Linked DNA regions of Homo sapiens. The protein of the gene in region 1 purifies or fractionates together with the protein of each later gene. This does not show direct contact. Each region holds a gene or a part of one and is shown on either strand. Other genes may lie near its edges.

What was found.
Region 2: the proteins of TBC1D28 (region 1) and KCNIP1 purify together in Homo sapiens (affinity purification with mass spectrometry; one large-scale study listed by BioGRID and IntAct). This does not show direct contact.

What each region holds. Positions count from the first base shown.
Region 1 is NC_000017.11:18,641,451-18,645,770, forward strand, and holds the start of TBC1D28 (TBC1 domain family member 28), read right to left. Parts: upstream 2,942-4,320; 5' UTR 2,840-2,941; intron 2,834-2,839; exon of another isoform or gene 1,287-2,833; intron 1,183-1,286; exon of another isoform or gene 1,136-1,182; intron 549-1,135; 5' UTR 474-548; coding exon of another isoform or gene 378-473; exon of another isoform or gene 329-377; intron 284-328; coding exon of another isoform or gene 182-283; intron 1-181.
Region 2 is NC_000005.10:170,730,829-170,734,197, forward strand, and holds part of KCNIP1 (A-type potassium channel modulatory protein KCNIP1), read left to right. Parts: intron 1-1,971; coding exon 1,972-2,076; intron 2,077-3,007; coding exon 3,008-3,070; intron 3,071-3,369. UniProt on the Homo sapiens protein: Regulatory subunit of Kv4/D (Shal)-type voltage-gated rapidly inactivating A-type potassium channels. Regulates channel density, inactivation kinetics and rate of recovery from inactivation in a calcium-dependent and isoform-specific manner.

The DNA.
Region 1 (4,320 bases):
TGAGCCCCATTCCACTACCCCTCCCAGATGACAAGGGGCCAGACTCAGTGGCCCCACCCCTGACTGGATCTCTGAAGTCCTGACCTCCAACCAGTGGTGGGCTCCTTCTTGAGGATTTGAGCACACGGGGACCTGAACAGAGAGGCCTATTGTCCCCGAACACCCCAAGGCAGACACACACCTGCCCTGGCAGGACAAACGGCGTCCACTTGCTGAGGGTGAAGTCCCCACGATGGGCTGTTCTGGGCACCTGGAGGCAGGTGGAGTCAGGGACTGGATGTCTCTATAGGATGGTTCAGGGACCAGGAAGATAATCAGTTTTCCGTAGGAAGCAAGACATCTGGTGACTGCTCCGTTCTACCCCAATTCTCACTCACTCTGGCCAGTGAAGCCCCTTCAGGAACAACGCCAGCCAAGCAGTTTGGTTTGGGGAAAAGATGATCTGTTGACTCCAGAGCAGCCTCTGTGCTCATGGAGACCCCGTCGCAGGTCGAGGACGGTGGACACCACAATTCCCAGCTGTCAATACAGGAGGGGACTTTGTTTTCCTGGGTCACCAAGAAAGAACAAGAGAACGCTGGGGCCTTAGTCCTAGAGAACACCTGGGGGAACCGTCCCCCCCAGGAATACTCGGGGCAAACGGAAGGCAAGGCCTCTAGAGGACCAGACAGAGAGAATGGGACGCTGCAGGAGGGTTCCAGTCCCCAAGCCTCTTTGACCAGGAGAGACGATTGTCACCCTCCAGGCAGCCCTCCAGGGCTCCTTCATTTTCCACAACTGCCTGAGGGCAGAGGGCTCCCCACCCCACTCCTAGATGAAGGACCCCATGTGTCCAGTGGGTCCCACAGCAACCATCAGTGACCTCCTCCTGTGGGGACCAAGCTTAGGGCACAGACTTGGACCAAGAATTTCACCCTCCACCCCACCCACAGGGGCTCTGTCCCAGTGGCTCTTCCAGGACCAGACCCTGCCTCATTGAATTCCAGAACTCAAGGAAGATTTGGAATCTAGGGTAGAGAGGCCTCAGCGGTCAAAGCTCAAGTCCAGCATGGCAAAGGGTAGGGCTGAGTGCACGGCCCGGGTCACATCTGGGTCTCTGGGCCAGTCACCGCCTCTCTGACTCTACACATCTCACCTGTGGAATGGCTACATTTGGGGACAGCACCCATCGCCACAGAGTCTCTGTGAGGACAAAGGAGAGGATGGTCCACGCCGTCAGTGCAGAACATGTACCCGGTGAGTGCTCAGGGGTGACCCTCGTCGGCATCTGCCCAGAGGTCACTCACCTGAGTCTGCTCAGGCTGCTGTGTCTCTCGCTTAGAAAAGTCGTTCATGCACCACAGAACCAGACACCTGTGTGCGTCTTATGTGCAAGTGCTGCACAACACAGAGGTGAGTGGGTGGGCAGGTGGGCGGTCACTCAGCACCAGTGACATTTTGAGGTCATGGCACCCATCATAATGGGCCATTGCCCAGGTCAAGAGGGCCCAGAGTCGGTGTCCTCCAGCCCCTAAGGTGTCAAAATGTGTTTGTGCAGGTGAGCATGTATGTTTATGTGGGTGAACATGTGTGTGCACGAGTAGCGTCTCTGGCCAGGGCTGGCTGTCCCACTTACATGTGCACCCAAGTGCTCATCAAGTCTTAATCAGCGTCACCTTCCCTTGAGGCCTGTGGCAAGCATCAGAGCATCCATGGGTCCTCCCCAACCTCAGAACTCCCCACACGGGGCAGTCCTGAAGATGCAGATGGGGGCTAGGGGTTAGAGGGCACAGGACAGGGCCCCTCATTAGGGGGAACTCAGCTAGACTGTAAAATGCTGGGTGTGAGTGGCAAGGTCGGATTCCACACATTTTTTCACCTCCTCCTCCCAGTAGCCTTCCAGGGTGCCATGACTCATTTCTGCTATGGACGGAGGCAAGGAGGCTCTAAGGACAAACCCCGTGCCTGAGGTCACCAAGCAACCATCTGGCCAGGCCCCCACTAACCAGACCCCTGCCGGCCAGGCTTTCACTGACCGTTTTCCCAGTGACCAGGCCTTCTGACTAGGTCCTCACTGATCAGGCCCCTGATGACCAGGCTCCAACTGACCATGTCCCCACTGACCAGTTTTTCACTGACTAAGCCCCAGTGGCCAAGCCTCTGCTGACCAGGCCCCTGATGACCAATTCCCCACTGACCATGTCCTCGCTGACCAGTCCCCCAGTGACCAGGCCTTCCTGACCAGGTCCCCACTGTCCAAGTCCTCCCTGCCCAGGCCCCAGAGCAGCAGTGTTCAAGGTCCTCTACCACAACTGCCCACAGGCAGAGGGCTCCCTACTCCCAGACAAGGGACCCCATGTGTCCAGTGGGTCCCACGGAGACCCTCAGTGACCGCACGTGAAGTCTGAGTTGGTGAGACCTCCTCCTGCGGACACCCAGCTTAGGGCACAGACTTGGACCGAGCACCACCTCCCTCCACCACACCCATAGGAGTTCCATCCCAGTAGCTCTTTCAGGGCCAGACTCTGCCCCATCAGGGGCCAGAAAACCCTGGGCAGATTTGGAATCTAGGGCCATAGAGACCAGGGCATGCACAGGGCAGGGCTGAGAGCACAGCCCAGGATCACATCTGGGTCTCTTGGCCAGTCACCTCCTCTCTGACCCTAGACATCTCACTTGTGGAATGGGTACATTCGGGGACAGCACCCACCCCACAGAGTCCACCAGGTCAGTGCAGAACAGGCACCTGGTGAGTGCTCAGGGATGACCCTCCTCGGCACCTGCCCAGAGGCTAGCCCTGCCCACCAGGTAATGACTGTACCCAGGTCAGCAGGGAAGGAACAGAGCAGGTCACACTCACCTGAGTCAGTTGAGTCAGTTGTGTCTCTCACTTAGCAAAACTTCCTTTTCTCAGAACCAGACACCTCTATGTCTTATCTCTAAGAGCTCCAGACATAGAGACGGCAAGCGGACAGGTGGGCGAGTGCTCAGCACCAGTGACATTGTGAGGTCATGACACCCATCACAATGGGCCCCTGCCTGGGTCAGCCGGGACCAGAGTCAGCACCCTCCACCCCTTGAAGTGTCAACGTGCGTGTGTGCAGTGTTTGTGCATGTGAGCATGCACGTGTATGTGGGTGAACACATGTGTGCATGCGTTTGTCACTGCTCTGGCTAGGCCCAGCTGCCCCACTCATATGTGCACCCAGGACACTGGGTCACCCTTGTCACTCTCTCCCCCCTCGGGACCCATGGCCATCATCAGAGCATCCACAGGTGCTCCCTAAACTCAGACCTCCCCATCCAGGGCATTCCTGGGATTGCAGATGGAAGATAGGGGGCAGAAGGTTGAGGGTTGGGGGCAAAAGGCAAAGGGCAGGTCCCCTCCCTAGCAGGGGACTCATCTAGGCTGTAAAGTGCTAGATCTGTTTGGCAGGGCTGGATTCCACACACCTGCTCACCTCCTCTTCCCAGCAGCCCTCCGGAGTGCCATGACTCGTTCCCACTACAGATGGCGGCAAGGAGGCTCCAAGGACAAACCCTGCCTGAAGTCACCTAGCTGCCACCTGGCCAGGCTTCTGCCAGCCAGACCCCCACTGACCAGGCCCCCACTGACCAGGCCTTCACTGACCACGTTCCCACTGACCCCACTGAGCAGAACCCTGAGCCGCGGTGATCAATGTCCCCTGCCAATGACCCCCCTCAGTCCACAGACCTCCCCTCCCCACATCAGCACCCACAGGCCATCCCCTGGGGGTCTTCTCGGGTCAAGGCCCCCACTCCAGGACACAGGGAGGGACAGTCGGCCTCAGGCTCTGGGTGCCCAGCTTCATGCTCGCCCCCAAAAGCCCTCTGCGCTCAACCTTAAAGGGGGCAGTGAGGTGGCCTGGCACTGCCTGGACATGATGTCTCGGCCTATTCCTGAGCCGCAGAGCCAGAGGAACGGGGGGACGTTTGTCAGACCAGGCACCCCGTTTTGCTGGGTCTCCCAGGGTTCTTCCTGCGGAGGCTGGATCCAGAGGCGCAGCACCGAGGCTGCAGGGTGACCGGCCCAGAAGCCTCGAGACTGGGCTGGGGACCACATGAGAACTGTCCCCAGATGGCCAGAAGACCCTTTGCTAATTTCCTGGTAGCTCATTTCCCACCAGCTACCCTTGCCCCACCAGGAATCCCCTTCTGGCAGAGTCAATGAGGAGAGGAAGATGGTCACAGAATCCATGGAAAGAAAGAAAACAAAATGACAATGGAACATCATCTATTTCCTGTCCATCTGAAAGGAAAGCCTAAGGAAGCCTATTGGGTTCCATCACCCTGAGGGCCCCGAGGATGGCATCACACAGT
Region 2 (3,369 bases), on another chromosome or scaffold:
TAAAAGTGCTTAAAAAAAAAAAACTGCAGGAGTCAACCTGAAGGAGTTCCCAATAGTCAGAATGAAAGCAATTTGAGCAAAATTAAAAATTATTAAGTACTGGATTATAACCTGTAAAATATGGTAAATGCCCACAAGTCCATGCTAATGTAAATAAACAACTGAATACATAAATAAATGCAGGAGAGAAGGTAGCTCTTCCTTACAGAAGAATTGTAATTAATAAGTATAGAAGGAATAAAGGAAATACAAAATTACCATCAGGCAAACACTACAGTAATAATTTTTGCAGGCAAGATCCACTGAAAGATACTAAATCAGTAAGGAAACTTGACAGACACCACCTTAATCAAGTGATCAAGGTTAACATTATCAGTAATAAGACATCTCAACACTATGTAACTCCCTGATATGACGCACTGAGAAGGTTATACCATCACTTCTGTGGTATTCTTGCCAGAAATGCATAACTTCAATCTAATCATAACTAAACCAGGGATTAACTCAAATTGAGAGACATTCTACAAAACAACTGACCTGTACTCATATCAAAAGTGTGAGGTCCTGAAAGACAAGGAAACAAAGAAACTCAGGCTGGGCATGGTGGCTCATGCCTATAATCCCAGCACTTTGGGAGGCAGAGGCAGGAAGATCACTTGAGTCCAAGAGTTTGAGACCAGCCTGGGCAACATGGCAAAACCCCATCTCTACAAAAAATTAGCCAGGTGTGGTGGCACTTGCCTGTAGTCCCAGCTACTTGAGAGGCTGAGGCGGGAGGATCACTTGAACCCGGGAGGTCGAGGCTGCAGTGACGGGGATTGTGCCACTGCACTCCAGCCTGGGTGACAGAGCAAGAACCTGTCTCAAAAAAAAAAAAAAAGAAAAAAGAAAAAAAGAATGAGAAACTCATACAGATTAGAAGAGACTAAGGAGACACAACAAATAAATGCAATGTAGAATCATTGAAGGGAAAAAAATATTAGTTGAAAAGCTGAGATCCCGCCACTGCACTCCAGCCTGGGCCACAGAGCGAGACTCCGTCTCAAAAAAAAAAAAAAAAAAAAAAAAAAAAAAGAAAAGCTGATAAAATTTGAATAAGCCCTGTAGTTTAGTTAATAATAGTGAAGCCATGTTAATTTCCTGGGTTTGGTCATTGTGCTCTGGTTATGCAAGTTGTTAACATTAGAGGAGACTGAGTGAAAGGTATGCATGAACTCTCTGTACTAATTTTGTAAATTTTCTGTAAGTCTAAAATTATTCATAATATGCAAAAATTAAACAAAAAATAAAATAAAATAAGCACATGGAATGAGACTGTCCCCTGGGTCTCTGTAGAAACCAGGTCAAACATCCCAAATGCTCTTTTACCCCCATTCTGAGTTGGGCCAGAATGGTCAGAATAATGGTTCCCAATGTACCTTGATAAACACGGAAACTCTCAGGACCGAGTCCTAAGGTTCTCTGATTCAATAGGTTTGGAGTGGACTTGAGAACTGATCTTTTTAATAAGGGCCTCAGTCTGTGGAACTATTGGCCTCATGTGCCCTGTGGATAATCTTGGCTGTTGGTTCATTTTTCTTAACTGAAAACAGTGGCAGAAACTATGGGGATTTTTAAATCTCTAGGCTAGAACATTAACTTTTTAAAAATTCAGAATAGTATTTTATTTGCCTCAAGCCTGTGAATGGGGATCCCACAAATCACCCCCCACTGAAGACAATGCCCATAACAAGGTAACCTACCCATGAGCTTCTGAGGGATTTAGGAATTGTCTACCATCTCCTCTCTAAGAAGGGCTCCCACAATATATCCCCTTCTGCTTGCTTCTAACTCCCTATCACCTGCTAAAGAAGGACCTCACCTTTTAATCACTTTCATTGCCAAGGGGCACAAGGAGCCCCAAACTCTGTCACCTAGGAAGAGCTTGACCTCATGGTTTCCACACTGTGTGCTTTTATGTCCCTGCTCCAGGAGATGATGGACATTGTCAAAGCCATCTATGACATGATGGGGAAATACACATATCCTGTGCTCAAAGAGGACACTCCAAGGCAGCATGTGGACGTCTTCTTCCAGGTAAGTGCACACACCCTGCACATGAGCTGTAAGCCCAGCCTAGATCAAGTCAACCCACGAGCATCTGAGCAAATGATTTGTGTCCAACCCTGTACTAAGCATGGTTGGTAACAGAAAAGAATTATAAGATACATTGTCCTCAAGAAACAGATGATCTCCTTAAGCTGCAAGTGTACATGACAGAAGAGAACAAGAAAGTATATTATTAAACGCTAGTGGTATAGTATGAACTCTAAATCCATAAAAATTTGGGGATCAGGGTAAACACGAAAGACTTCATTAATTACAACTGTGGAGGTGTTAAGCATTTGTGTCTGGGAAGTAAGGGGAAATAAGATTGGAAACTAGGATAGGGCCAGATTATGAGACCTTTAAATGGAAGAGTTTGGCCTTGCTCTGGTACAGGATGGGCAGCTAGTGCTGATCCTTGACTAAGGGAGTGGTATAATCATTGGGGCATTTTAGGAAAAAATTAATCTAGCGGTGGAGTATCAGAGAATATCAAGAGTTCACTCTAGTTCAACCTCCCACTTTGCAGATGGGAAAAGAGAGTCCTCTCTGGCCTTGTGCAAGTTTGTACAGCAAGTAACAGGCCAGAATCAGAACCTCTTTTGCCCAGTGTTCTGCCAGATGGACAGGGTAGCAGGGAGTCTACAGAAGAAGCAGAATAAGCCAGCAGTGAGGTGATGAGTGTCCAGAGCAAGTCTTTTGATTTAAGGAAGCTCATGGGGCTCAAAGTGTTGTAATCAGGACCTAATTGGAGTTGTCTGGCCAGTGAAAGACAACTCTCATTCTCAGGGCAAAGTTGGTTAATGAAATGAATGAAATGAGCTCCAGCTCGTTACTCTGAGCTCCAGCAAGAAAGCAGGGGAGTAAGCTTTGGAATGGAGATCACCAGATTCTGTAAAGTGCTTTCTGTTATGTCTTTCAGAAAATGGACAAAAATAAAGATGGCATCGTAACTTTAGATGAATTTCTTGAATCATGTCAGGAGGTAAGGAGAGATCTCAGGGCACAATAACTCTACATCTGGGAAAGGAAACCTGGGGCCTGGGGACCTGCAGAAGGAAGGTGATGAGAAACCTGCACATACCTGCAACCCCTCCCATCAGAGCCAACAACACCAGCAACAACTGTGAAGTCCACAGTTCCACTCCTCAACCTGACCTGCAGTTGGTCTTGGCTAAGCACAAGACTGAACAGAGAGCCTAAGTAGGGGTCTGGGGGCATGTGAAAACTCAGAGGGGGTCTCTGTGAAAATAGACTTCCCGAGAGGGCAACACCATTATTTTT